7 linked regions of the Homo sapiens genome follow. The protein of the gene in region 3 interacts with the protein of the main gene of each other region in a pairwise test. Each region holds a gene or a part of one and is shown on either strand. Other genes may lie near its edges. The genes, in order: CTNNA3, SOX3, CRX, SAE1, C1orf50, SOX10 and SMAP2.

Evidence for each region.
Region 1: the proteins of CRX (region 3) and CTNNA3 interact in binary tests that used the Homo sapiens proteins (3 or more experiments, as listed by UniProt).
Region 2: the proteins of CRX (region 3) and SOX3 interact in binary tests that used the Homo sapiens proteins (3 or more experiments, as listed by UniProt).
Region 4: the proteins of CRX (region 3) and SAE1 interact in binary tests that used the Homo sapiens proteins (3 or more experiments, as listed by UniProt).
Region 5: the proteins of CRX (region 3) and C1orf50 interact in binary tests that used the Homo sapiens proteins (3 or more experiments, as listed by UniProt).
Region 6: the proteins of CRX (region 3) and SOX10 interact in binary tests that used the Homo sapiens proteins (3 or more experiments, as listed by UniProt).
Region 7: the proteins of CRX (region 3) and SMAP2 interact in binary tests that used the Homo sapiens proteins (3 or more experiments, as listed by UniProt).

Annotation. Positions count from the first base shown.
Region 1 is NC_000010.11:65,912,023-65,915,195, forward strand, and holds the end of CTNNA3 (catenin alpha-3), read right to left. Parts: 3' UTR 501-3,173; downstream 1-500. UniProt on the Homo sapiens protein: May be involved in formation of stretch-resistant cell-cell adhesion complexes.
Region 2 is NC_000023.11:140,502,485-140,506,474, forward strand, and holds SOX3 (transcription factor SOX-3), read right to left. Parts: upstream 2,586-3,990; 5' UTR 2,577-2,585; coding exon 1,236-2,576; 3' UTR 501-1,235; downstream 1-500. UniProt on the Homo sapiens protein: Transcription factor required during the formation of the hypothalamo-pituitary axis. May function as a switch in neuronal development.
Region 3 is NC_000019.10:47,820,582-47,824,736, reverse strand, and holds the start of CRX (cone-rod homeobox protein), read right to left. Parts: upstream 2,801-4,155; 5' UTR 2,727-2,800; intron 1-2,726. UniProt on the Homo sapiens protein: Transcription factor that binds and transactivates the sequence 5'-TAATC[CA]-3' which is found upstream of several photoreceptor-specific genes, including the opsin genes.
Region 4 is NC_000019.10:47,203,835-47,207,334, reverse strand, and holds part of SAE1 (SUMO-activating enzyme subunit 1), read right to left. Parts: intron 1-3,500. UniProt on the Homo sapiens protein: The heterodimer acts as an E1 ligase for SUMO1, SUMO2, SUMO3, and probably SUMO4. It mediates ATP-dependent activation of SUMO proteins followed by formation of a thioester bond between a SUMO protein and a conserved active site cysteine residue on UBA2/SAE2.
Region 5 is NC_000001.11:42,777,249-42,779,991, forward strand, and holds the end of C1orf50 (uncharacterized protein C1orf50), read left to right. Parts: 3' UTR 1-2,243; downstream 2,244-2,743.
Region 6 is NC_000022.11:37,981,756-37,985,732, forward strand, and holds the start of SOX10 (transcription factor SOX-10), read right to left. Parts: upstream 2,801-3,977; 5' UTR 2,584-2,800; intron 2,114-2,583; 5' UTR 2,030-2,113; coding exon 1,602-2,029; intron 1-1,601. UniProt on the Homo sapiens protein: Transcription factor that plays a central role in developing and mature glia.
Region 7 is NC_000001.11:40,411,727-40,415,226, reverse strand, and holds part of SMAP2 (stromal membrane-associated protein 2), read right to left. Parts: intron 2,212-3,500; coding exon 2,125-2,211; intron 1,069-2,124; coding exon 987-1,068; intron 1-986.

The sequences.
Region 1 (3,173 bases), on a different chromosome or scaffold from region 3:
AGGCTAACCCCATGGGATTCATACTGAGAAAGGATTATTATCAGCCTAAAAATGAGGAGGCCAAGATGGATGTTAAAAACCCACCAATTTTTAGATACAAGAGCATTGGTAGAACCAATGGTATTCCATGACCACTAGGGAGTATGTGTTCGGACATTCTCAGAAAAGTTATTGATCATTTTCATAAAGTCCTAAGCTAAAGAACAACTCTTGAGCTACACAGAACTATTAAAGGCATGTCTAATGCCCAAGACTAGTGCCTGTATTAGACCAAAAATGCTCATTTAGACTATGAATTTAATTCTATCAGATATGCTTCAGATTACTTGTGTGCATGCAGTAGTTTGGAAAAGTGCCTTCCTGAATTATAAATATAAAACTGAAAGAGGATGAGAGTGAAGGTGACACTTAGAAACACATGGTTGGACTACTCAGCAATTTATTAATCTCCATTTTTTTCATCCCACCCAAGAAATCCGCCACCAAATATCAACATAAAATGCATAGCCAATCTTTTCATTTTTATTGCTTTAACACACATTTTAATTTTCAGTTGAACAAATTCTTAATGAGCTACAGAGTGACATGAGTTGAAATTAGAATAAAGTAAAATAATACTATATAACCAAAACAAACCCAGTGTTACATATGTGAAATAATGCAATTAAGAGCACAACTAAAAAAAATCATTGATTCAGTTAAACACAAAAGACATGCAGGGTCTCAAACAAGGAGTATTTGGGCTTCTATGTCAATGTCATAGGAAAGAGCTTTTTCTATTTCTGGATAAATATTTCATTTTTATTGATTGGCAAAAATACTTTAAGGATAAATATGGACCAGAAAGGCCTACAGTATTTTTGCCAAATTTTATCTATAGCCAAAGCACAAAACTGCTTTGAACTGGTCATTAATATAATGGGCAGTTCATTCAATCATATTCTGTCTCTGCAGAGCAGGGTGAAATGAACAAGCAAGATAGTCAGAAACACCTCAAACGCCACTAAACTTAAGTTCCCAAGATATTGCTGCAATAAACATGACTATTATGAATTGGTTACTTTTATTTCATCTCAGAAAGTCTTAGTTTAAATCTGCTTTCATCCTAAATTATAATGTGCATATTACCTTCAGAGAGGTCACTACATTTAAGCTGTCAAAGTTGTTGTTGTAATACGACATAAAGTAAATGATTTTTTTCCCCCAAGTTGCTATGAAACTAAAACCATAATCAAAATGGAAAACAGGGGCATCTGGAAATCTTTCTCTAGAAGTTTTAATTCATATTTAATCACCCAACTTGCCCAAGAAAATTTTGTTTTAAGCCTCAATTATTAGGTACTAAATTGGGCATAAAATATGTCTACTTCTGTTTTCAGGAACTTGTTAGTCACGGATATGGAGGAGAAATTATTATGCTACCATTTAGGTCTAAGGAAATTTTCTTTGGAGGGACTGTACCACATGAGAAAAATTTGCAAAATCAACAAATAGCACATCTTAACCCTGCAAGACAGTTGCTGAAATTCTCATATTTATATCCCTATGGACACAATGTATACTAACATGTAAAAATACAGCATTATAATGGTATAAGATTTGGCAAGCAATGGAACATGATTTTTATAGTAGTTTAAAATTAATTTTATGTTTAAATATTCAGGAAGGAGGATAGTTCTGTTTAACTGAGAGCAGGGGCTAGCATCTCTGACTTACTCCTTTGCTTTACTAATAAACACTCCACTACAAATCTGGTGTTAAAAGCCCAGGTCAAGGAAATCCCTTAGTAGAAGCTCAACTCTCAGTGAATACCACAGAGAGGTTCAGGTAATTTACACAGATGGGGAACTGATGTGACATACCTAAGGTTGGCCTGAGTCTGCAGAAGCTGGGCTGTCAGAATAGAAAAGCAAGATATCTACAGGCTTTTGAACTATTGATACAACTATTCAAAGGGGGCTTTAAATGTATAAGGAAGTGTCACAGACCTCCAACACCAAATAACCAGAACTAAAAATAACCATCCTTCTTGAAAATGCCAAGGAAATAAACTTTGGAACTGGGAATATTTCATTTGAAATGAAAACACAAGAACTACTCTGCTAATATTAAGTAGCTTTTGTACATGTTCTAAATTGAAGAAACATTTAGACATAATTGTTAGAAATCTGAGCCTTTTTGAAAGAGAATTTTCTCCTTGAGGGCTTTCCTTTCCTACAGTTGGGAATAGGCACCATCATGACTACCAGATACATAAAAGTGAAGATCCCCAATATACACATCCATTGCTCAAACTAGGAATGTGTGTATTTCTTATGTGGCTCCACCGTAAGAAATATCAGAAAGTCATTTAACTCTCCAAGGCCTGAGATTTGAAAGCCTATCCAGCAACATGGGCAAGAAGAGTCTAGCCTTCAGTCGACTCTAAAAAAGGCCATGTAATTTTAAAACACAAAGTTTACCTGTATTCAGGCACATACTATGCACACGTGTGACCTCCATAAAGAAGGAAAGATGTATTTGCTACAGTTTGGGTAAATTTCAAATACAGGGAAACTTTATCCTACTACAATAATCCTTGGCCAACACTCTGCTGCAATCTATAATTTTAAACACAGTCACATGTTAGCAGTAAAAGAGGAAAGGATTGGTGTTAACAAATGGTATTAACCAACCAATACTGAAGATGGGCTGAAACAGGCATTTCATTGAAGCTTTCTTCTCCATGGTAATAAAAGTAATTTGGCAAAGGTTGTCCTCTTATTTCAGATCACGTAAATAACTTACTTCCCATGTACCTGACACTCTACATTCAGTTAATAGAGGTGAGAATATTCAGCTAATTATATATCTGTCTTGAATGATGTAAAATATATATTAATATTTTAAAGCCAGTGAGACTTTGAGCAAGATTCTTATCCCATTTAACCCTCAGCTTCCTTGTCTGTGGAATGATATATATCCTATAGGGTTATTTGGAGGATTGAATAAGATAATAGTTAGCATTTAACACAGAGCTGGCACATGAGGGCAAGGATCACTATTTGTTTTGTTATATGGTGTATCCTAAGAACCTAGAACAGTGCCTGGAACATCACAGTTGTTTAACAAATAGCTGTTAAATATATGAACGTATGGTAACCCAGATTGGCTCTAATATTGGGAAGAATTTC
Region 2 (3,990 bases), on a different chromosome or scaffold from region 3:
ATCCCTGTAACCATTTATTTTTAATAGGATCATCGAGATTTCCGAAGGGTTTTCGTTTTGTAAATATTTCAGCTAGGCTCAAATGTCTTCCCGCCCCAGTGCACAAAGGTAAAAGTGCCCCGTTTTTGGTCGGTTTCAGCGGCCGCGCCTTTCCAGCCCCGCCTCGCGTGGCTGCGGCAGCAGACACTTTCAGCAGACGCTCACTGCGATCAACAAGTGCGCGGCCGCGGGCTCTGCGCATTAGCTACTACTGTGTGCCCGCTCTCGGGAGACGCTCCTGGAAGACTCGGAACTCTGTTCCGAGTTTCAGTTGAGAATATTGGAAGCTGGTGTATGGTGGATCACCAGTAGTTAAAAGGAAACCATTTCAGATTATGCTTGCCTCCCCCCAGGTCCCACCCCGCCCCTAGGATGGGATCTCAGTTGTAAAACCGAGTGTTGGTTCCTCCCCAACCTGCAAAAAAGTTTCAGGGCCGCAAAATTATCAGGACTCCATCATGTTGGTTATAAAATTTATTGATCTCATTTAGGAATTAAGAGTAAAAGCTTGAAAACCCTGAAACAAAGTAGCCCCTCCCCACTACCCAAACGAAATCTGAACACATTAGCGCGAAGAAATATCAAACAGATCACGGCAGAAATCACCAACTCAACATGATTGGACAGAAGCTGTCCCGCGGCCAGGGGCGGCGAGGCGGGAGACACACGCACACCTGGCTATAAATTAACATTGGCTTTAGCTGCCGCGCTGCTTGGAGCGGTCAGCGCCCCAAAAAACCACGAGGAAAACAGACGCGACACGACTGGGGGCGTAGGCGTTGCAGTTCTCCAGCTGGCCTCACCCGATACTATGTTTCTCCCATTCACTCCTTGGCTAACTGCAAACTAACAAGACAACATTTTCAAATGTAACAGAATAACCCTGGAACTCAGGAGGAGGAGTGGGGGCTGTTTTTTCTTTGCAAATAACACAGCGATTCCCAGCCTACAAAGGTGAAAGGAGCAGCGGCGTGGGGCAAGAGAGCTCTCTAGAAGTCCCATTTTCGCTGCTCCTGACTTATTTTTGCTTTTGTACAAAACCCGACAGCTACAGCAAAACTTTCAGCCCTCCCCATCATCGGTACAAGGCAACAGTCCCAGGCAAGCAAAGCTAAACAAGGCGTCCCAACTTGGGGGTGCGGGGCGGGAGTGGGGGTGGGGGTGGGGAACAAGGGTGGACGAGCGCAGGCCGGTGCTCAGATGTGGGTCAGCGGCACCGTTCCGTTGACTGCAGTCCCGGCGCCCTGGTAGTGCTGGTGCACGCCGTGCAGGCGACCGCCGGGCAGCGGAGAGGCGGCGTCGGCCGCGTCCCCGCCGGGTGGCAGGTACATGCTGATCATGTCGCGCAGGTCGCCGAGGCACGCGCGCTGAGAGTGCGATGCGATGGCGGGCGGCGGCGAGCTGGGCTCAGACTTCACTACCGAGCCCATGGGGCCCAGGCTCATGGCGGCTGCGGCCGCAGCTGCGGCCGCGGCGGTGGCGGGCTGCTGCCCGTAGGCGGCGGCCGCGGCTGCTGTGGCTGAGGGCGCCATGCCCCCGTAGCCCGAGGCGGCGGCGGCCGCGGCAGCGACGTTCATGTAGCTCTGAGCGCCGGGCGGCATCATTGGGCTGTACTGCAGGCCGGCCATGTCGTAGCGGTGCATCGGCGGCAGCGCGGGCGGCGGCGGCGGGCTGCTCATGCTCGGGGGCTGCGCGTAGCCCAGCTGCTCCTGCACCAGCGAGTACGCGCCGTTGGCCCAGCCGTTCACGTGCGTGTACGTGTCCAGGCGCTGGCCCACGCCCACCGGACTGCTGGCGGCAGCGGCTGCGGCCGCGGCAGCGGCGGCGGCGGCCGCGGCACCGGGAGGCAGGAGGCCGCTGGGCAGGGAGTACTTATCTTTCTTGAGCAGCGTCTTGGTCTTGCGGCGCGGTCGGTACTTGTAGTCCGGATACTCCTTCATGTGCACGGCGCGAAGTCGCTTGGCCTCGTCGATGAATGGTCGCTTCTCGGCGTCGGTCAGCAGTTTCCAGTCGGCGCCCAAGCGCTTGCTGATCTCAGAATTGTGCATCTTGGGGTTCTCCAGGGCCATTTTGCGCCGCTGCCCGCGGGACCATACCATGAAGGCGTTCATGGGCCGTTTCACACGGTCCTGGTCTGTACCCCCGCCACCTCCGCTCGCACCACCGCTGCTGCCGCCGCCCGAGTTCGCGCCGCCGGCTGCGTTCGCACTACTCTTGCCTGCGCCTCCCGGGGCTGCGGGGCCGCCGGTGCCCGCCGCTTGTGTGGGTGTCCCTACGGGGTTCTTGAGTTCAGTCTCCAGAAGGCTGTACATTGCCGGGGCGGGAAGAAGGTGCGCCAGCGTGGCGGGAGGAGAAGGCGCTCCCGGGGCTGGAGCGGCCACGGTGAAAAGGCCCTGGGACTCCGTCGGAGCGGAGCTTGGGGGCCTGTGGGCCAGCGAGTCCGGCGGGAAGGGTAGGCTTATCAAAATGCTCCGCGCCAAATCAGCAGGAACCCGCGGGCTTCTCGCACCTGATGAGTTCTCTCGAACAGGTCGCATTCACAGTCTGCCTGGGCTCTAGCTGGGCCCCTTATATACCTGCTCGGATTCCCCGGGGTTGGGGCTTGGTCCGCCCCTCGCAACCCGGAGGACCCGTGATTGACAGGTTCGCAGTGATGCGCCCTGGCCAATCATTACCGAGCCCCCGTTCGGCCTGGCTGGAAAAAAAAAAGTTCGGGGAGCCCTTTCGTTCACCCCACGCCCCTCTTTGGCCTAGTGACGTGGTAAGAGTTACTTAGGAGGCGGGAGTCCACGAGGCCCACTCAGAGGCCACCAATTAGGGTTTCAAAAAGTTTGAAAGAACGAAACCTGAGGAGGTGACGGGGGGAGGGGGGAGGGGGCACGCAAGCAGATTGGGGGGAGGGGGCAGAGGGGCGCCTTCGGAATTTAGAAAACAACTTTGCAACCCTGTCAAGGCAGACCGGCGCCCCATCCCCCGGCCAGCCCGCAAAGCTTCCCGTTGTCTGCACGGAGGTTTTCTGGCCGCTTCTGCTGCCAGCGCTAGGAACGCAGGGCACCACCAGCTACCCAGGCCGGCTTAGGGACTCCAGGCTCATTGGAAGTGCTCCTGGCTGCGTCTCCAAGAAGCTCTCCCTGGAATTGGCCGCTGGTTGTCCAGATCTTTCTCTAGGAGGGCCAGTGCGTCCAGGACGCAGCGTGGGTCAGGGGCCCGGGCATGGGAGACAGGCTTCAGGACTGCGGGGTGCATTCGGCTGTGAGGCTCTTGGGGGTTTGCAGGAGGGCGGGCAAGCAGTCAGTCGCCCGTCTCCTGAGCCTGTCGGAGGCGCTCGCACAAGGTGGTGTGGAAAGTATGTGTGGGACGTAGGGGGTGAACTGGCCTCCGCTCTCTCGATCCTGGCCCCCGCTTAGCGGCCCCTTTTTGTCTCTGCTCTGTGGCCATTTCGGTTTTTCCAGTCCGATGCCCCTGAGGGGGAGGGTCGGGCCCCTTGGAAAATCCGTTTTCATGGCAACACGGAGCCTCTCAGAGTGAAAGAAAAGTTTCTTGGAGGGGGGAACGTTGGCCGGAGCGGAGCCGAGGCCGTCCTCCGGGCGAACCGCCGGGCCCCCTCCACTGCCCCCGCACCTGCCGGGACCGCTGAGCGCTACTCTGGGCGCGCAGCCTCGCCGCCTCCCCCGGGAGCAGGCTCTGCTAACGGATTCCGTCCGTCTCTTTTATTGTTTTAGAGACTTCCTGAGATTCGGAGCGGGACATTCACTTGCTTGTTGGGTTATCTGCCAAAGACTAGCGGCGCGGGAACTCTGGCTGCGGGGAGAGGAAACCCCGATAATCGCCACTGCCAGCTGAAGCGAGTGGCACAGCGTTTGAAACTCTCGGAGCAGCCCGAGGTAGCGAGTGGGAATGAGAAGCCATCCCGGCAGATTTGGCAGAAACTAAAATAAGGTGTCCATACGG
Region 3 (4,155 bases):
TTCCCAGCTGAGCAGTTGTTCCCACAGGTGAGGTCTGAATGCTCACAGCCACCTGGTGGGGCAGACATGCAGATAACTCCATTCTACAGCGGGGGAGACTGAGCCTGGGAGGGAGGGAGGTGCCCACAGTTCAGGTGGCTGATGACCTTAAGGACCTCCAGGGGGCCCCAGCTTCTCACACACTGCATGCACCATGGACCTTGGGAACAAGATCTCAGGCAACAGTAACTCCATGGAAACTTCCTCCCAGGCGGCTTCTGGTATCATCCCCACTTTACAGAGAAGGAAACTGAGGCTGAGAGAAGTGTAGTCTCCAGTTCTGTCTCGCACGTCAGCGGCAGAGCCAGAGCTGGGCCAGCACCTGCCCCGGAGCCGGTGCCCTCCTGATCACCCGGCGATATGGCCTCTTAGGATGCTCCCCACAGCCCCACGGAGCTCAGAGGTCCCTTTCTCAGAGGAGGAAACTGAGGCTGAAAGAGGTTTCGTCAATTCCCGAGGTCACACAGGTGATGAGTGGAAGAACCAGGGGTAAAATTTAAATCTCTTTGGCCCCCGAGCCCCGCTCTTCACCCCCAAGTCTACCTAGGGACCCTAGAAACAGAATGAGGCTGGTCTCCTGCCCTGCTCCCACTGCAGGCCAGGCCTGCAATATGGCTCATCTGGCTGGATCATGGTGACAGCTTATCATTGTCCCCACTTTGCAGAGGAGGCAACCAAGGCCCAGAGAGCCCACATGAGGGGTCCAAGGCCACACAGTGAGAAAAGAACAAGATTTAAACGCAGACTCGGCCGGGTGTGGTGGCTCACGCCTGTAATCCCAGCACTTTGGGAGGCCGAGGCAGGTGGATCACCTGAGGTCAGGAGTTTGAGACCAGCCTGGCTAACAAGGTGAAACCCCATCTCTACTAAAAATACAAAAATAAGCCAGGCATGGTGGTGCACGCCTGTAATCCCAGATACTTGAGAGGCTGAGGCAGGAGAATCGCTTGAACCTGGGAGGTGGAGGTTGCACTGAGCTGAGGTCATGCCACTGCACTCCAGCCTGGGCCACAGAGTGAGACTCCGTCTCAAAAAAAAAAAAAAAAAACCAGACTCATGTGGCTTCATGCCAGCCCTTGGCAAGACCCTCCCAGCTCAGCCACATTCAGGGCCCTCCCTTGTCAGCCACTCCAGCCTCTCTCTGCAGCCTCTGTTGGCTCCTCTGTCCAGCGGGGACAAGGAGCTGGGTGGATGCACCCACTGCCGGCCATGAGACCTGGGGGAAGCTGGGATCCACGGCACAGTTAGAGCCTGAGCAAATCAACTCCGTGATCAACAATGTGATCCCTGAAGCATCCAGAAATTCACACACAGTGGGCAGCCCTGAAGTCGGACCTCACTCTGTGGCAATCACAGCCCTCGCTCGTTCCTTTTGGGAAAACCGCATCACACCTCCTCTCTGTGGCAGTCTGTCTACCTGCTTCTACCCTTCTGCCCTTCATTCATTCATTCATTCCCTGCATATTCACTGAGCACTCACTGTGTGTCTAGGACTGACCCAAGCACTGGGAATACAGCCGAGAGCAAGACAGACAAGGCCTCAGCCCTCCTGACAGGGGCAGACGGGAAACAAGGTGTCAATCAAGAGTTTTGCAGGAGACCGGCTGGGCGCAGAGGCTCATACCCATAATCCCAGCACTTTGGGAGGCTCAGGCGGGCTGATCACTTGAGGTCAGGAGTTCGAGACCAGCCTGGACAACATGGAGAGACCCCCCATCTCTACTAAAAATACAAAAAATAGCTGGGCATGGGGGCACGCGCCTGTAATTCCAGCTACTCAAGAGGCTGAGGTGGATGGACTCCTTGGACCTAGGAGGTAGAGGTTGCAGTGAGTGGAGATCGTGGCACTGCACTCCAGCTTGGGCAACAGAGCAAGACTCCATCTCAAAAACAAACAAAAAAAAACTTTGCAGAAAGAAGATCAGAGAGAGTGACTGTGCTGGAAGCTAAGAGGGCGGGGGCGTGAGGATTCCCCAGTCCCGAAGTAGAGCCTGGGCTGAAAGCCAGAGCCTCTGGGTGCATTGAGGCCCTAAGTGATCAATTCACCAGCACAGTGATCCCCAGTCATCACATTCCTGGCTCTCTCGGGCAGGCCCAAGTCCACCCGGAGTTCTTCCTGTTGCAGCCACAGACCTGGGCTCTCTGCGTATATGTCTGTTCCGTCCCTTGTCTGTCATTCATCCATCCATCTATGCAACACATATTTAGGCAAATCCCAACCACACGCTGGGCACTGGGGAAAAATCAGTGCTCAACAAGGGAGGGAGACAGGCCATTTGTGGATCATCGCGCAAATGAAAATTTCAGGCAGTGCTAAGAGTTTTAAAGAACATCCAACAGAGCGGTATGCTGAGGAGTTGCCTTAGAACCACGGTGAGAAGCCCCCAACCCCGGATGCCGTCAGGGCTTGAGGGGACCCCCTTGCCCACAAGCCACCCTGAATCCTCCCAATGCCCCGAGTGCCATCAGCCAGTCCCTGCTGTCTAACCTTACTCCCTCCTGCTGCAATCACAGCCTAGCCCCGTTTCCACAAATGCCAGGACGGCACCTCTGTTTTGTGTGTGACTATTCAGCAAACATCACCTGCAGAGCACGGCAAACACAGCCACGAATAAGATAAACCCAACTTCTCCCCTCTCTTTTTTCTCCCCTCCTCGGTCCCCTCCGCCTCTCCTGCAGACGCTCACCTTCAGAAAGGAGGGACGGGGCTCTCCCGTGGCCCAGGACCTAGACAGAGCGGCCAGACAGCAGAGGCTGAAGGAAACACATCCCCTCACATGGGGAGATTTTAAGCCTGGGCCGGGAGTGATGTCATTTGTCATGGCCTGGAACTCGGAGGGTAATCCCGGCCAAGGTGGGGGACTCGACTGGGCACCAGGAGGTGACATTGGCTGGGAGGGGGAGGGGCACCCGTCTGCTTAATCCCCTCCTCTTCCCCCCATGACATCTTGGCAATTAGGGCTGATGGGGAAGGGAGGCCCCAGCTCCTGCCGGTGACCATAAGCCCCTACTCCTCAGGGAAGTCCTTCCTTAGGTCTAACTGGTGTCTCTCCAGCTTCAGCTAGTATCCCAAGAGAGAGGCATCAAAGAGGAAGGAGAGCACTGTCAGATGGTCCTGAGAGATCGTCTGAAAAAAGAGAGGCACGGAGCTTTCGGGATCCCTCTCCTGGGTCCCCCTTTCTCTCCACAACAGTCTGTCCGACAGCTAGTTTATCTCTGTAGTGCCTCATTGGTCTCGGTTTCTGCCTCAGTTTCCCCTGTTTCTCTCTCTTTGACTTGGTCAAGTCTTGTCTGTGGCCTCTCTGTCTCTGTGTTGTCAGACATGATATTCTCCTCTTTTTGGGGGCGGAGGTGGCAGGGGCTGCTTCCAGCACTGAAAATAGGCAGACTTATTAGAAAGGGTGTTTTGTTTTTCTGTTTTTGGTGGAGTTTGGGGTTTGGGATTTTTTTCTTTTTTTTTTCCTTTTTTTTTTTTTTGGTTGAGACAGGGTCTCACTCTGTCGCCCAGGCTGGAGTGCAGTGGCATGATCACAGCTCACTGCAGCCTTGACCTCCTGTGCTCAAGGGATCCTCCCTCCTCAGCCTCCCCAGTAGCTGAGACTTTACAGGCACATACCACGATGCCCAGCTAATTTTTTTATTTTCGTAGAGATGGAGTCGCTCTATGTTGCCCAGGCTGGCTTCAAACTCCTGGCCTCAAGCAATCCTCCCACCTCGGCCTCCCAAAGTGCTGGGATTGCAGGCGTGAGCCAACAAACCCAGCACTCACCATCTCTCTACACACCATTGGTCTTTGTCTGGCTTCTCTGTACCTCAGTTTCTTTTCCTGTGGGCCTTAGGCTGTGGCATTTCTGCCTACTTTCCTGAATACCACTCTTTCATTCTCCATCTGCTCCTCTCCGTCCCTGTCTCTGTTGATAAACCTGCATTATCCCCTTGGTCTCTCTTATTCTTTTTCTCTGTGTCTCCCTGTCTATCTTGCTCTTTCTCCCCTCTCCCTCAGCCTCCATGTCCTTCTGTTCCTGTCTGTCTGTCCCTCCCTTTGCTGTCTTTCTGCCTGTCCACCTGTCCCTGTAACTCCAGCCTCATCTCTGTCCCTCTGTCCTCGCTTATCCT
Region 4 (3,500 bases), 620 kb from region 3:
ATCCATAAAACAGGGACAATCACATCTACCATATACAAATAGTGTTAGTCAGCCATTTTTCCAGGGAAATTTTATTTATTTGTAAATGTTTTTAATTTTTTGAGATAGGATCTTGTTCTGCTACCCAGGTGGGAGGCACATTCTCGGCTTACTGCAACCTCCGTCTCCCCAGCTCCAGATATCCTCCCATACCCTCTTGAGTAGCTGGGACTTTTGTAGAGATGAGGTCTCCTCATGTTGCCCAAGCTAGTCTTGAACTTCTAGGTTCAAGCAATCCTCCCAAAGTGCTGGAATTACAGGCATGAGCTACTGCACCCAGTCAAGGGAACATTTATTAAGCATCTACTCTATGCCAGGTATTCAGCTAGACATTAAGGATTCTGAGGTCTCTGTCCACATGGAGCTTGGATCAGAAAGAAGTTTGCTTCTCTGGGCAAATAGGCAAATAAAAAGCACCTGCCTGCTAGAGTTTTGGTGAGAATGAAATGTGACTAGGCTTGTAAAGTGCCGAGCACGTAGTAAATTCTTAGTAAGTAGGAGCTGCTATTAATAATAATAGGGCCAGGAGTCCTTTACCAATACTGGGGATGCCACCAACCTAGCCAGGTGGAAGGGTCCAACAGTACACAGGTGGAACTCTTAGACCCTCAAACCCAAGATACAGGAGATGGTATGTGTTTTACCATGAACCTGGGATGGCTGCTGCTTTCACTATCACCTCTCTTACCATAGACAGGGAGACCTGCCGTGGACGGTGGGGATGGAGAGAAAGGAAAACTGCTTTAAACCCAAGGAAGTAGACATGGATATAAAATAGGGTATCTAGAAGGACGTAAGAAAGGAAAGACGCAAAAGATGATTCCAAAGGAGCAGACTTGCGCTTGACCCATCTCCTAGTGTAAGCTTTCCATAGGCGCTCAGACAGTGCCTCAGGAGAGAAAGGTGAGTCTGAGGCCCTTGGACTGCAGGCCCCGCCTGCCAGCTGGCTGAAGGCTGACCAGTAATAAGTATGAAGGAGTACTGGGGATGAGAGCAGGGCATGGGGTGACATGGGGCAAAAGGTAAAGTGCTTCCCAAGCAAGATGGGGTAGGAGGAGATTCCAAACACACCCAGCAACGAAGAATGCAGAGTACTCTGGCTATCTGGGATAAACAGAAACAAGATGCTGGGCACCAGCTGTCTCCAGCAGGCAGGAAGGAGGGGGCTGTGTGAGGATGGGGATGTGAGAAACTACCACCAACAATGGGGTCAAGGCTACCTGCCCCAACCTCCAGTCTCCATCCCACATGAAAAATTTAGGGGGAGCCCCTCAATGGGATGTGCAGAAGTAAGGCTGACAATGCAAGGGCAGCGGCCCTGGGGTCCATGCAGTCTCTACATGATGGTGCCATTGAAGGCAACACCTGATGCATGACTGCCCCGTGGTGAAGAGGACAGGCTCAGAAACCAGACTGCCTGGGCCCACATCCTGGCACCACACTCACTAGCCTGGGCAAGCATCTTCTTTCCTGCACCTTAGTCTCTCTTTTATAAACCAGGGATCACAGGAGTTCCTACCTCATAGGGCCGGTGGGAGATGAAATGAGTATCCACGTAAAAAACACTGTCTTTGTGTGGCAGACAGTGGGCTTTCAGTAAGTCTTGTCTATTATTGGTGGTGTCGTCATTTTAGGCTACAAAAATATGTACATTCCCATTCCCCACTTAGAACATTCCCATTGCTGCACTCTTTCCTGCAGTTTGTCTACAGGGAGCCTCAGAATCCTGCTCGAACAGTCCTCTGGGTGGCCATTACCCTCTTCTCAGATTGGGCATATAAACTGTAATTTTCACATCACTCTGGGCTATGTATAAAATGTGAGCAAGGAAAGAGGTATGGCCATTGCACACTTTTCTTCCCCCTCCAAATATCTCCTCGGTGCCCATTACATAGAAGAAAGTTAGATTTGATCAAAGGAAGAATTTAGACCAGAGAGAAGGATCAGAAAAAATAGACAAAAAAAAAAAAAAAAAGTAGCCTTAGGAAAACGGTGTGACTAACAAATTGAGCCAAACGCCTCCAGAATGTACAGACCCCAAGACAAAGTGTTAAGGGCTGGCCTCCAAACTGTCCTCCCAAGCTCAAACTTGACATGTACATGGACATGGCCAATCATTTAACCAGGCACGACTCTGCTCCATAAGAAAGAAGGAAAAAGCCTCACCGGAGTCCACGAAGGCAGCCAAGAACCTGCAAAAGGCAAATTTAACATCTTCGGGCAAATAGCAAAGTCTGCAAAGAATGTACAATATATTTGGGGGTATGGTATAGTTTTAGCAACCCAAATGTTCCAGAAGACCCTCAAAAGGCTGTGCTAGTTACTGGTTATGTGACCCTGTATAAGATGCTTCCCTTCTGAGAGACACACTAACACCTACCTAACAGGGTCACGGGTCATCCTGTACAGAGCCTTGAGGGGCTCCTGGTGTGTTCATGGGGACACAGAAACTGATTTCTCTACAAATACCTACAGTGTGTGGTTAAAAAGACGGGGGCTTGGCCGGGTGCGGTGGCTCACACCTATAATCCCAGCACTTTGGGAGGCTGAGGTGGGAGGATCACAAGGTCAGGAGTTCGAGACCAGCCTGGCCAATATGGTGAACTACTAAAAATACAAAAATTAGCCTGGTGTGGTGGTGGGAACCTGTACTCTCAGCTGCTCGGGAGGCTGAGGCAGGAGAATCGCTTGAACCCAGGAGGCGGAGGTTGCAGTGAGTCAAGATCATGCCACTGCACTCCAGTCTGAGAGACAAAGTGAGATTCTGTCTCAAAAAAAAAAAAAAAGGGGGGGGGTGCGGCTGGGTACAGTGGCTCATGCCTGTAATCCCAGCACTTTGAGAGGCTGAGGTGGGCAGATCACGATGTCAGGAGATCCAGACCATCCTGGCTAACACAGTGAAACCCTGTCTCTACTAAAAATACAAAAAAATTAGCTGGGCGTGGTGGCAGGCGCCTGTAGTCCCAGCTACTTGGAAGGCTAAGGTAGGAGAATGGCGTGAACCCGGGAGGTGGAGCTTGCAGTGATCTGAGATCGTGCTACTGCACTCCAGCCTGGGGGACAGAGCGAGACTCCATCTCAAAAAAAAAAAAAAAAAAAAAAAAAAAAGGGAGGGCTTTGATGTCATGGTGATGAATAGAGATAAACTGTACAGAGGTTAAGAGCACAGGTTCTGGAGTCCCTTTCATGGGCCCAAGTGTCTTCCTCTTAAGTGGGGATCATGATAGTACTCACTTATAGAGCTATGAGAAGCAGAATCCCTGACCAATACAACAGGCACTGGATAACTAATACAGTTAGGGGAGAGCAGATCACACCTTCGAGGCACTATGGCCAACTGTGAGCTAAGCACAGAGCAGGCACTCCAAGGTCATTTGCTGAATGGCACCTGGATGGGCCAGAGAAAATGGGATGAGGTGGAAATGGGGAGGGCATGAAACAAAGATGAATGGGGTGAGAGA
Region 5 (2,743 bases), on a different chromosome or scaffold from region 3:
CCATGCCCAGCTAATTTTTTTATTTTTAGTAGAGACAGGGTTTCACCATGTTGGCCAGGAGGGTCTCTATCTCTTGACCTCATGATCCACCTGCCTCAGCCTCCCACAGTGCTGGCGTTTGAGCCACCATACCTGGCCTGTTGGCAGAATTTCAATTCCACAAGGGTTGCTGGCTTCCGGGGTTCCACTAGCTGACTGTTGGCTGGAGGTTGCCCTCACTTCCTTGCCACACGAGCCTCTATAACATGGCAGCTTTCTTAAGCAAAGTAAACAAGGATTAGAGTCTGCTAGCCAGATGGAAGTTACAGTCTCATGTAGTCTGATCACAGAAGTGACATTTCATCACCTTTGCCGTAATCTTTTGGTTGGAAGCAAGTCACTAGGCTAGCCCATATTCAAGGGAGGGAGTTATACAAAGGCATGTATACCAGAAGGCAGACATCATTGAATCATTGAACAGATCCTAGAATCTATCTGCCACAGTGCTCAGTTGAGAAGAAGAAAGGAAAATTCTAGGTAAAAAAGGCAATATTACTAAGTGGTTAAGTGTGATGATGTCAAAGTCACAGATCTGCACTTGACTGTCAACTCTGACAAGACAGCCTCCCAGCTGGCATCCCTGCTTCCCCCTCTGTCCCCTCTCCAATCCATTCTGCATGCAGTCATCAGCTTGATCATTTGAAAATGCCAAATCTCCCTCACTCTTGACATTTCCTAACCTAAAGAGTGGGAGAGTAGTGATTGAAAAGAGAGAAACTGCCTTCTGTTCAGTAAGATGTACTCCCTGCACTGACCACCAAGGGGTGTCATTGCTCTTTCCTGGTTAAGCCAGTTACCACACTTGGGAAGGGCTAGTGGCAATGTGAGGTGATTTGGGGCACCTCAGAATGGGAAACTAGGACCCAGTGATTATATACAGTAATCACTTTTCATTTACCCATCCATCTGTTCACCTGATAATTTCATTAGTGTTAAGTGCCTTCTAGGTTCCAGGTTCTGGTGAATAATGGAGCTGAATAAGAAATCACAATTTCCAGGGAGCTCACAGTATAGTAGGGAAGGAAACAAGTTAACAATTACAAGATGCTCTAAGAAGGGGTGTGATAGAGGTACGCATGGAATACTATGGAGCTCCGGGGAGGGGTTCCTTACTGAGCTTGGAGAATTTGGGAAGACACTTGGAGGAGCTGATGCCTGCTTGGTGTTGAAAACCATACAAGTTAGAACTTTCTGGAGGCTCCAATTGCCCTTTCATAGGAAGTTTGTCTTTTGGGGGTTGGGGTAGGGTTCATTTTTGGATGGAGTTTATTTGTGAATGAAGAAAGTGACAACCATTTAAGCCATATCAACCAAAGCAGTCCTGGCAATGAGGAGGGGTGGAGTGAGATATGTCCTGGCTAGAAAATCCTTGTGTTTAAAAGCTAGGAGATAGTTGAAGACAGGGAGGAAAAAACATTCCAGACAAAAAATAACATGGAAGGGACATTGACCAGAATTGACACGACATTTGGGGAATCGCAGCCAGTTAAACAGGAGAATATGGACTGGGGAATATGAGAGAAGAACTAATGGAAGGATTTGGGGAGGCTGGTAATATTGGCAGCAGAGTTTGGGTAGAGGGAAGACAGGAGATTCCATCCCTAATCAAGGCAAGGGATGATGGGAGTCTGAATTAAGCAGTAGTAGAATGAGAGGGCCTGTATTTCACCAATTACAAGGTGTACTTCCCCCCCCCCCCCCCCCACATTTTGGTGTCTGTCAAACTTGGACACTTCTAAAAGTCAATGGCATGTCACAGTTTAAGTGGCATTTTTTCTTTCTTAGAGCTACATAAAAGAATCATAACAAGCTGGGCGCAGTGGCTCACGCCTGTAATCCCAGCACTTTGGGCGGCTGAGGCGGGCGGATCACGAGGTCAGGAGATTGAGACCATTCTGGCTAACATAGTGAAATCCTGTCTCTACTAAAAATACAAAAAATTAGCCGGGCGTGGTGGCGGGCGCCTGTAATCCCAGCTACTCGGGAGGCTGAGGCAGGAGAATGTCGTGAACCTGGGAGGCGAAGCTTGCAGTGAGCCGAGATTGCACCACTGCACTCCAACTTGGGCAACAGAGCAAGACTCCATCTCAAAAAAAAAAAAAAAAGAATCATAACATAGCATCTTACATTTGATGAAGCATGGCACATTGAAAGTACAATCGATTGCCATCTTGTTAATAAAATGTCAGAGGGATTAGAGGAAAGACTCTTAGATGATGCTTGAATTTCTGGCTTGAGTGTCTGCATTGAATAGTGGGGATCCCCTCAACAAAATTTTCAGGAGGAGGAGGATATCCCTGTTATTTTCCAGAATAATCAGTGATACTCTGTGATATTGATAATCTACCTTGTTGGCCCTTACCAAATTACTGGGTGTGAGTAACAGCTGACTGTAGCTCCCTTTCTCTACCCTAGTGCTCTGGAAGGAGGAAAGGAGAGCTGGCTTGTATCTTACTTTCTCAAGTTATCAGTCCACAAACATGAAGAGTATTAGTGTTACAGATACAAAGATGATAACTACTGTCTTATGAGCCTTTATTCTGCTAAGTGTATCCATTATCTCTTTTAATCTTCACACAACCCACCATCAATGAGGTATATAGTATTCTTATGTTACACAGCAGGAACATCTCAGAGATTCTGAAACTGGCCCGTGGTTATACAGATGGGAAGTGGTAGAGGTCAGATTCAGACACAGTCCTGT
Region 6 (3,977 bases), on a different chromosome or scaffold from region 3:
GGATGGACCTTGGGTGGAGGAGCTAGCTGTGACCTCTGCTCTTGGGCAGAACTGGGCTGTCTGGGTCCACACAGCGGGCTGGTCGCTGAGCCCTGGGCCTGCCCTGGGTGAGCAGGGCACTGAGGGCTGAGAAGGGGCAGGGGAAGGGGCACCAGGTCTTCAGCAAACACATGGCAAGAACAGGCCAGGGGGCGGGATGTGAATCTTTTGGTCTCTTGGAGATCCTCCTGCACCTTCTACCACTCTAAGCCTCTAGACCCAATCTCTACCCAACTGTGGCTGGCAAGGGGGAGGGCAGCGGAAGAGAGCCGGGCTCCTCTGACAAAGCCCTAATTTTCTGGAACCCAGATGCTCCTCACTCTTGTTCTCATCTTCTTGCTTCCCCCCAACCTCCTGACCACTCCTCAAAGTGTAGGTGATCCACCACTGTCACCAGGGTCAGGGGAAGTCCTCTGGACAGAGAGTATGGGAGTCCTGGGTTCTGGCCCTGGCTCTGCTACCAACTTCTATGTGACCTTTGTGATTCCTTTGCCTTTCTGGGCCTGTCTCTTGGTCAGTCTAGCGAGAATCAGGTGACTGCTACCGGCTCACATCTCCTGGAGTCCCTGGTCTCTTTCAGAGCTGCTCTGGCACTCCCGGGTGGGAGTGGGGGACTGTCTTGTTCCACACATCCCCAGGAGGCCTGGCTGAACCCCAGACCTGAGTCGAGGGTGGGATAATTGCTCCCTGCGGGGGATGTTTTTCCTAGAGGTGTGGGCTGGTCCCAGGGAACCTGGGACTCTGAGGGCCCCTGGGCAGGAAGGAGGCCAAGGTTTCCTTCTGGCCAGAGTGCTCAGCTCCAGCTCTGGGGCAGTGGGGAAGAGGTTGCTCAACGTTGGGGTGGGGCCCTGGCAGGGAAGATGGCGCCGAACTGGGAGAGGGAGGAAAGAGATCAGCTTGGTGACTCTGGGGCAGGGCAGGAGGGGGAGCCCCTTACTGTGTGTCCTCTCCCTAGGAGGATGAAGAAGCCCCCAACTCAAAGGAGGGTGGCGTCAGAAAGTCCCAGGGAAGAGCCCTAGGATAGGATGAGGTCCCGCAGCAGCAGATTTGTCCCGCAGTTCTTCATCCCTCACTCTTCCAAAGACTCTCATCTGAATTCCGTTTTCTTTAAACCTCCCCTGAGTTCTCCATCTGACTGCCTCAGTTTCCCTGAATCTCCAGCCAACCCTTTGGTTCTTTCCAAGCGTTTCCCTCGTATCCTCCTGACCACAGCAGCTGGTGGCATAGTGTGCGTATCTGTGGGCAGGAGTTAGTGAAGGCCTCCTTCCCTCCCTCCAAAGCCCCAGGCCCCACGGTCTGCCACCCGCAAAATTCCAACCACGAGGGGGCGCCTTCCTGCCCGCCGCCCCGTAGGGAGACCCGGCCTAGGCCGCTGGAGTTCCGAGTTCCAGGGTCCTTGTGATGGAAGGGCGGGCGCGGCCCCCACACCTGGTCTTCCAGCCCTATCCAAGGAGGACTGCCAGACAGTCCCGCTCTGAGGTGCAGGAGGCCGGGCCGCCTCGGCTACCCTGAATCCACCCGAAGCTAGAGGGCCCGAGCCCGGGGGGCGGTCGGGTGCTCACCTCCAGAGCTTGCCCAGCGTCTTGCTGAGCTCAGCGTTGTGCAGGTGCGGGTACTGGTCCGCGAGCTTCCTGCGCGCTGCCTGAGCCCACACCATGAAGGCGTTCATGGGCCGCTTGACGTGCGGCTTGCTTTTGCTGGCGCCGTTGACGCGCACGGGCATGGGCACCAGCGTCCAGTCGTAGCCGCTGAGCACCTGGCTGACGGCCTCGCGGATGCACACGGGGAACTTGTCATCGTCCGCCTCGCCGTCCTGCTGCTCCTTCTTGACCTTGCCCAGCTCGCCTGGCCCCGGGCTGGCTCGCAGGCCCGATCCGCCGCCGCCGCCGTCGGGCCCTAGCGAGGGCGCGCTCCCCGGGGACAGGCAGCGGGGCTCCTCCGAGCCCACGGGGCTCAGCTCCACCTCCGATAGGTCCTGCTCCTCCGCCATGTCGCCCCCGGCCGCCGCCGCCGCCGCCTCGGCCGCCTCCCCCGGGCCAGCCGCCGGGGTCCTCGCAAAGAGTCCAACGCCCACCTGGATGGAAGGAGGGCGCGATGGAGCGGCCGCGCGCGCAGCCCCGAGGGCGGCCCGAGACAGGACGTGGGCACAGCCCCGAGGTGGCGGCCCTTCCTGCTCCAGCTAAACCCATCTGGCCCCTGGGGCCCACGCACATGCCAGACTCTAGGTGGGTGCGTCCCGCCTCTGTGTCTTCCCACCACCTGGTCCCAACCGTCTCTTGGTGTGGGTGGCTTTTTTTTTAGCCTCCTTTTTTGGGTGGAGGTTTGTTGATGATAAGGAAGAAAAAAACGGAGCCTTTATTTTGCTCTAATCCCGGCCCCTGGAATTTCCCACCTTTTCTCTCACCTTTCCTTCTTCCCTCAGCCTGCCCCAACGGGGTTTAGAGGAGAGCCAGGTGGGGGGCAAGGGCGGGGTGTCGCCTCTCTCCACCTCACAGCAGGGTCCCAGGCCTGGGCGGGCCAGGGAGGAGCAGGCTGCGCACTCACCTCCTCGGACCTCTCCTCCAGTCTGGGGCTCGTCCTTAGGAAGTGGAAAACCGTGTCCCAAGGTGTGCGGTCCAGCTCGGGGCTGGGAGGTGACGCTGGTGGGCTGGGAGGGAGGGGCGGGGGGCCCTGAGCCTCAGGCCACGGCCTCGTTAGGACGGAGCCTGAATCCTTACCACCAACCACCCTGGCCGGACAGCCCGAGACTGACTGAGCGACTGAGCCTGAGCCGCTGCGGAGGGCTGGGGAAGGAAGGAGGGGGAGAGGGGGGAGGGGAGAGGAGGGAGGGAAGGGCAGAAGGTGGAGCCTCCAGGCTTTCCTTCATCCCCAACACTCAGGGCTCCTCCACCCGGAGCCCAGGCCCCCCCACCCAGCTCCCTGCCCTACTGCCCAGGCCCATCTTGCTGAGGCTTATCTTGGGCTTAGTCTGGGAGGTGGAGGGGAGGTTAGGCCGAGGAAGGAAGAGATGTAGGCTGGAGGGTCAGAACCTGTTGGATGGAAGAAAATTGGGCCCAACCAGGACTCCTAACGTCTGCCTCAGGTGGCAGGATGGGCACTTGGCAGGGGACTAGGGAGAGACGTGAAGGCGGTGAGGGTCCTGGGGGCCCGTGAGGGTGGCTGGCCCTAGCTGCTTCGTCTGCGAAATCCTGTTGAGTGCCTAGTGTGTGCCAGGCACTGATGCCCAGCTCCTCACCCTGCCTCCTACCTTTTCCCAGGCAGCCCTTTCTGCCCCATCCTGCACAGTAAGAGAGACTTCTCAGGGATCCCTCTGAGAAGTGCAGAGCCCCAGCTTGACCCCTGGTCCCTTCTCTGCAGACACCCAGCACACGCGCGTTCTGGTCTGGTTCAAGGTGGAAACACAAGACTAAAGCTGCCAGGAGGCCAAGGTGGGACAGGTTGGGGGCCCTCTCTCAGTAGGTCTTAGAGGCATTTTGGGTTGCTACCTACTGGGACCCAGCTCCTTCCACACTGGGCTCACCCTGTCTTGGGAGAGGGTAGGGGAGTCCTAGTCCTGATTGTCACGAAGTCCTCTACTCCCCCACCCCAACAAGGGGTGGGGACTTGCCCTGCCTCTTCCCTCCTCTGCCCACCTCTCCCTCCCTCCCCTTTTCTTTCCTGCCCATCCTCCGTTGACACCTTTTTCTCTCTCTTTCCTTGGCCTCTCCTCCAAAGGTCGCAGTGCTGTTCTCTTAACTGAGGGCAGCCCCGCCGGGGTGTTGAGGCCGAGGTGGGGTGTATGTGGGTTATGTAATGGAGCTGGGGTCGCATTGGCAACCATGTGACGTTCTGAGCTCCTCAACAGCAGGGCAAAGCCCCAAGACCACCCCAAGGGGTCCTGTCTGGAGTGGGCTGCAAAGGGTCTGGGGAGGCAAGGCCTCATGCTTGGGAAAGTCCAA
Region 7 (3,500 bases), on a different chromosome or scaffold from region 3:
CCATGCCTTCCTTCTATTCTAGACAAAAAGCAAAGGTGGCCCATAAGCTCATGGACCTAGAAATCTAGACTTCTGGAACCATCTAGCATGGACGGGGCTTCTCAAAAGAGGCTTCACCCCACATTCCCAGAGTGCTCTGGGGAAGCCTGTAGCCCAGCTATCAGGCACAGGGCAGCAGACGCCCAGGCCTGAAGGGTATTTCAGCACCACAGTGGGGGGCTGGCTGGCTCCCTTCTGGCTATTTGAAGGGCAAGGTATGGAGGAGGGTTCATTTTCAGAGAGCAAGGAAAGGTACAGAAATTAGAAGCCTAAGTAGCCAATAACCTCAATCAGCAGAAGCGGATGGAAACAAAGTGCAACCATCAGTGCTGTGAAAGGCAGACAACAGGCTTTCTTTCTGAAAGGGCAGAATCACTAGTTCAGGATTTCAAAGGTTTGGAGAAAAATGACCACAGGCCATCTCAGAAACAGGTTGCATCTGAAAAATGAAAGGAATGGGGGCAGGGAGTGGAGTACAGGGAATTGACATGAGGCTCAAAGGTGCTGTTTAGCAAAACTGCTAACATTTATGGAGGGCTCAGTATGTGCCAGGCATGGGGCTAAGAGCTTTAGAGGCATTATCTCATTTAATCCTTCCAACAACACCTTTGAAGTAGAGACTCATTCTCACTGCACGGATTATGAAAGCAACATTCAGAGGTTAAGTAAACTACCCATGGTCACACAGACAGTAAGTAACACAGAGCGACACTGGCTCCAAAGGCCATGCTCTTAACCACTACACCACACTGTCGCTCTGAAAAGTGTCACAGTAAACACTTCCTTAGAGCAACTGCTCAGATGTAAAACAGATCAGGAAGAATGTGAGAGAACAGTCTTGGCAATGAAGACAAAACTGGAGAACCCCATCTCTACCTATCTTCCAGGGTCACTGAGAATTTATCAAAATTTGTAAGAACATGGAAGCTGAAAAGTCCAACTCTTACCAAGGCCCAACAAATCCATGACAGGCGCTGTGGATTTCGGGGAGCTTTTCCGAGGTAGCTGTGGGTCTTCTTTTTTCTGTGGCTAAGGTGAAAATATGTTATAGCAAGAAATAAGCAGGTGGTTTTGAACTCTTTTCCCATCTCCACTGTAAAGCCACGGTGTTCTTGTGGGTAGGGCTGCTGTTATTCAAAGAGAGTTACCAAAGAAACAAAACTCAGGAAGTATTAGGTGAAAGAATCAAGTCAGGAGGCAGAAGTGCATAAACCAAACCTAAAATGAAAAACAAAGATATCGCCTGTGATTGTCTGGTGTCCTAAAGAGACAGATCTTTCTGAAACCAAGACAACCACAGAACAGGGGATCCAACAGAAGCAGCAGTTTTTGGTCCCAGGAAAAGCCAAGAATAAAGGTAGGTATCTGATGGTACAAGAGCCAAGAGCCAACAAATCTCCCAGTGGTTAGAAAACCTTTTACTTTAACACCAAAAGGGAGGTTGGTTTAAAGATTACCTAATTCACTCTGCCAGTATCACTAGTGATTGTGTCCACAGACAATGTGATTCAGAACGATGATAAAAGACTCTTCCTTAAGCAATAGTAAGTAAAGTCCTCTCTCCCAAGATTCCAAGTTTTTATGTTAGAGATTCTACTACTACAGCCACAATATGTCCTGTGGAAAAAGAAGGGTGTCTGTTTCAACATGACAAAGCAAGAACATAAGAAGGGATCACTTAAAATGGACTAATATGGCCTCACTTCTGGACTGTTCTTCATTGAAATCAGAAAATGGGATACAGAAGGTCTAACAAGAGAAGGACTAATGTGGAAATAGCATCTGCTCAGATGGTGTCCCTCAGCCTTGGCATTCTGGCTTGGAATGTGCCTCTTGCTTAGATGGAACAGATGCATTTCCTGAGTTCTCATCTGGCCCCAAAGCGAAGCCCTTACAGAGCAGATTTAGGCAGCAACTGGTAACGAGAGAGCAGAAATGATAGCAGGCAGTCCAATCCAGATGCAGAACCCTTTAGCCCCAGCTGTGATGGTGCAATGGTACTCACCACGAGACCTCCTACTTTCCCTTTCACAAATATACACATACCTGAGGCTGTCCATACAGTGCAAATACTTCCCAACTTACCATTTTCACCTTCTCAAAAACAACAGGTTCCAATTTTTTTTCTGGAACTGGTTCGCTCCCTCTTTTCCACTTGTCATCTTTTTCTTTCTATAATGATTTAACAAGACAAAGAACACAGGGCCCAAGGTGACTAATAGTTGGATAAATCATAATTCCAAGTGTCCGAAAAGGACACCTCCAATCCCTATTGATTCTGACGTAAGTGTCTGACAAGCTTGGGGGGCGGTGTCTTGGTGTGGAGCATGAGAGTTGACCTCTTCCACATTGGCCTCAATGCTGTACGAGGCGTCTTCCAAACACCTTAGGCGCCCGCCCTCCTAACCCACTCATGACTGTTGACATTTGCAGTCGAGGCTATGTACAGACGCTAAAACATTTTACCAGTATGCTGCCCACCTGTGCCCCAAATTTAATTTGCCCATGCTTTGAGAGGTCTCCCCTCATATCAGTATACTAGTGAATAAGTTCATCTTACTCAGCTTATGTCCTTTGTGATATCATAAATTCAATCATAGGTCCTCTCAATATTCATTTTTTTAACAGTCAGAAAATAAACCTTAATTTCAAGTTTACAGATTAGAAGAACAAAAATTAAGTTTTAAAATCAAATAAACATCTAAATGTAAAACAAAACCACAAAGTAACCTTAAGAATACAGAGTATAGCATACATATGAAAAACATGTTTGGTCTTGCCAGTGATAAAAAATGCAATTTAAAATGCACTTTATGCAGGGAGAAAGATCTTTCTATAATGGTGGGAGGGATGAAGTGAAACCAGTACTCTTATACAATGCTGAGAAGAGAGAGTAAAATGGTACAAATTCTGGAAAGTATATTGGCAAAACTAGGAAGAGACAAATGTTGAAATCCTTTGACCTAGATGATACCATATCTTGTAATGTATCTTACGAAAATAGTCCAAAATATGAAAAAGGTTAAATGCACCAAGTTCACCCCAGAATTATTTATGCTAAAAAAAATTAAATAACATTTATGCCACAGAAGGGAAATGGTAAATAAATTATTACTTTCAGTGATTTAGCTACTCACTGAAAGATGATGCAACAATTAAAAATTATAAACACTATATAAGCAACACAGAAATATATGTTAAGTGGAATGAAGGCACGAGAAGTCTACATAACTGTATTATAATTATGCCTCCAAAAAGAAACTATTTAGAAAAAAAGGGGAACACACCAAGAAGATAATTATTAGCAAAGATAGTGAGAGTATGTATGGATATTTCACTTTAATTTTCATTTTCTCTAAAATAATTTTATAATCAATACATGCAGCTGTTTTTCTCATACAAAGTGTATGTCTTTAACACGACATTTCATTTAAGTTAAAAATGTTTTATCTGTCCATTAT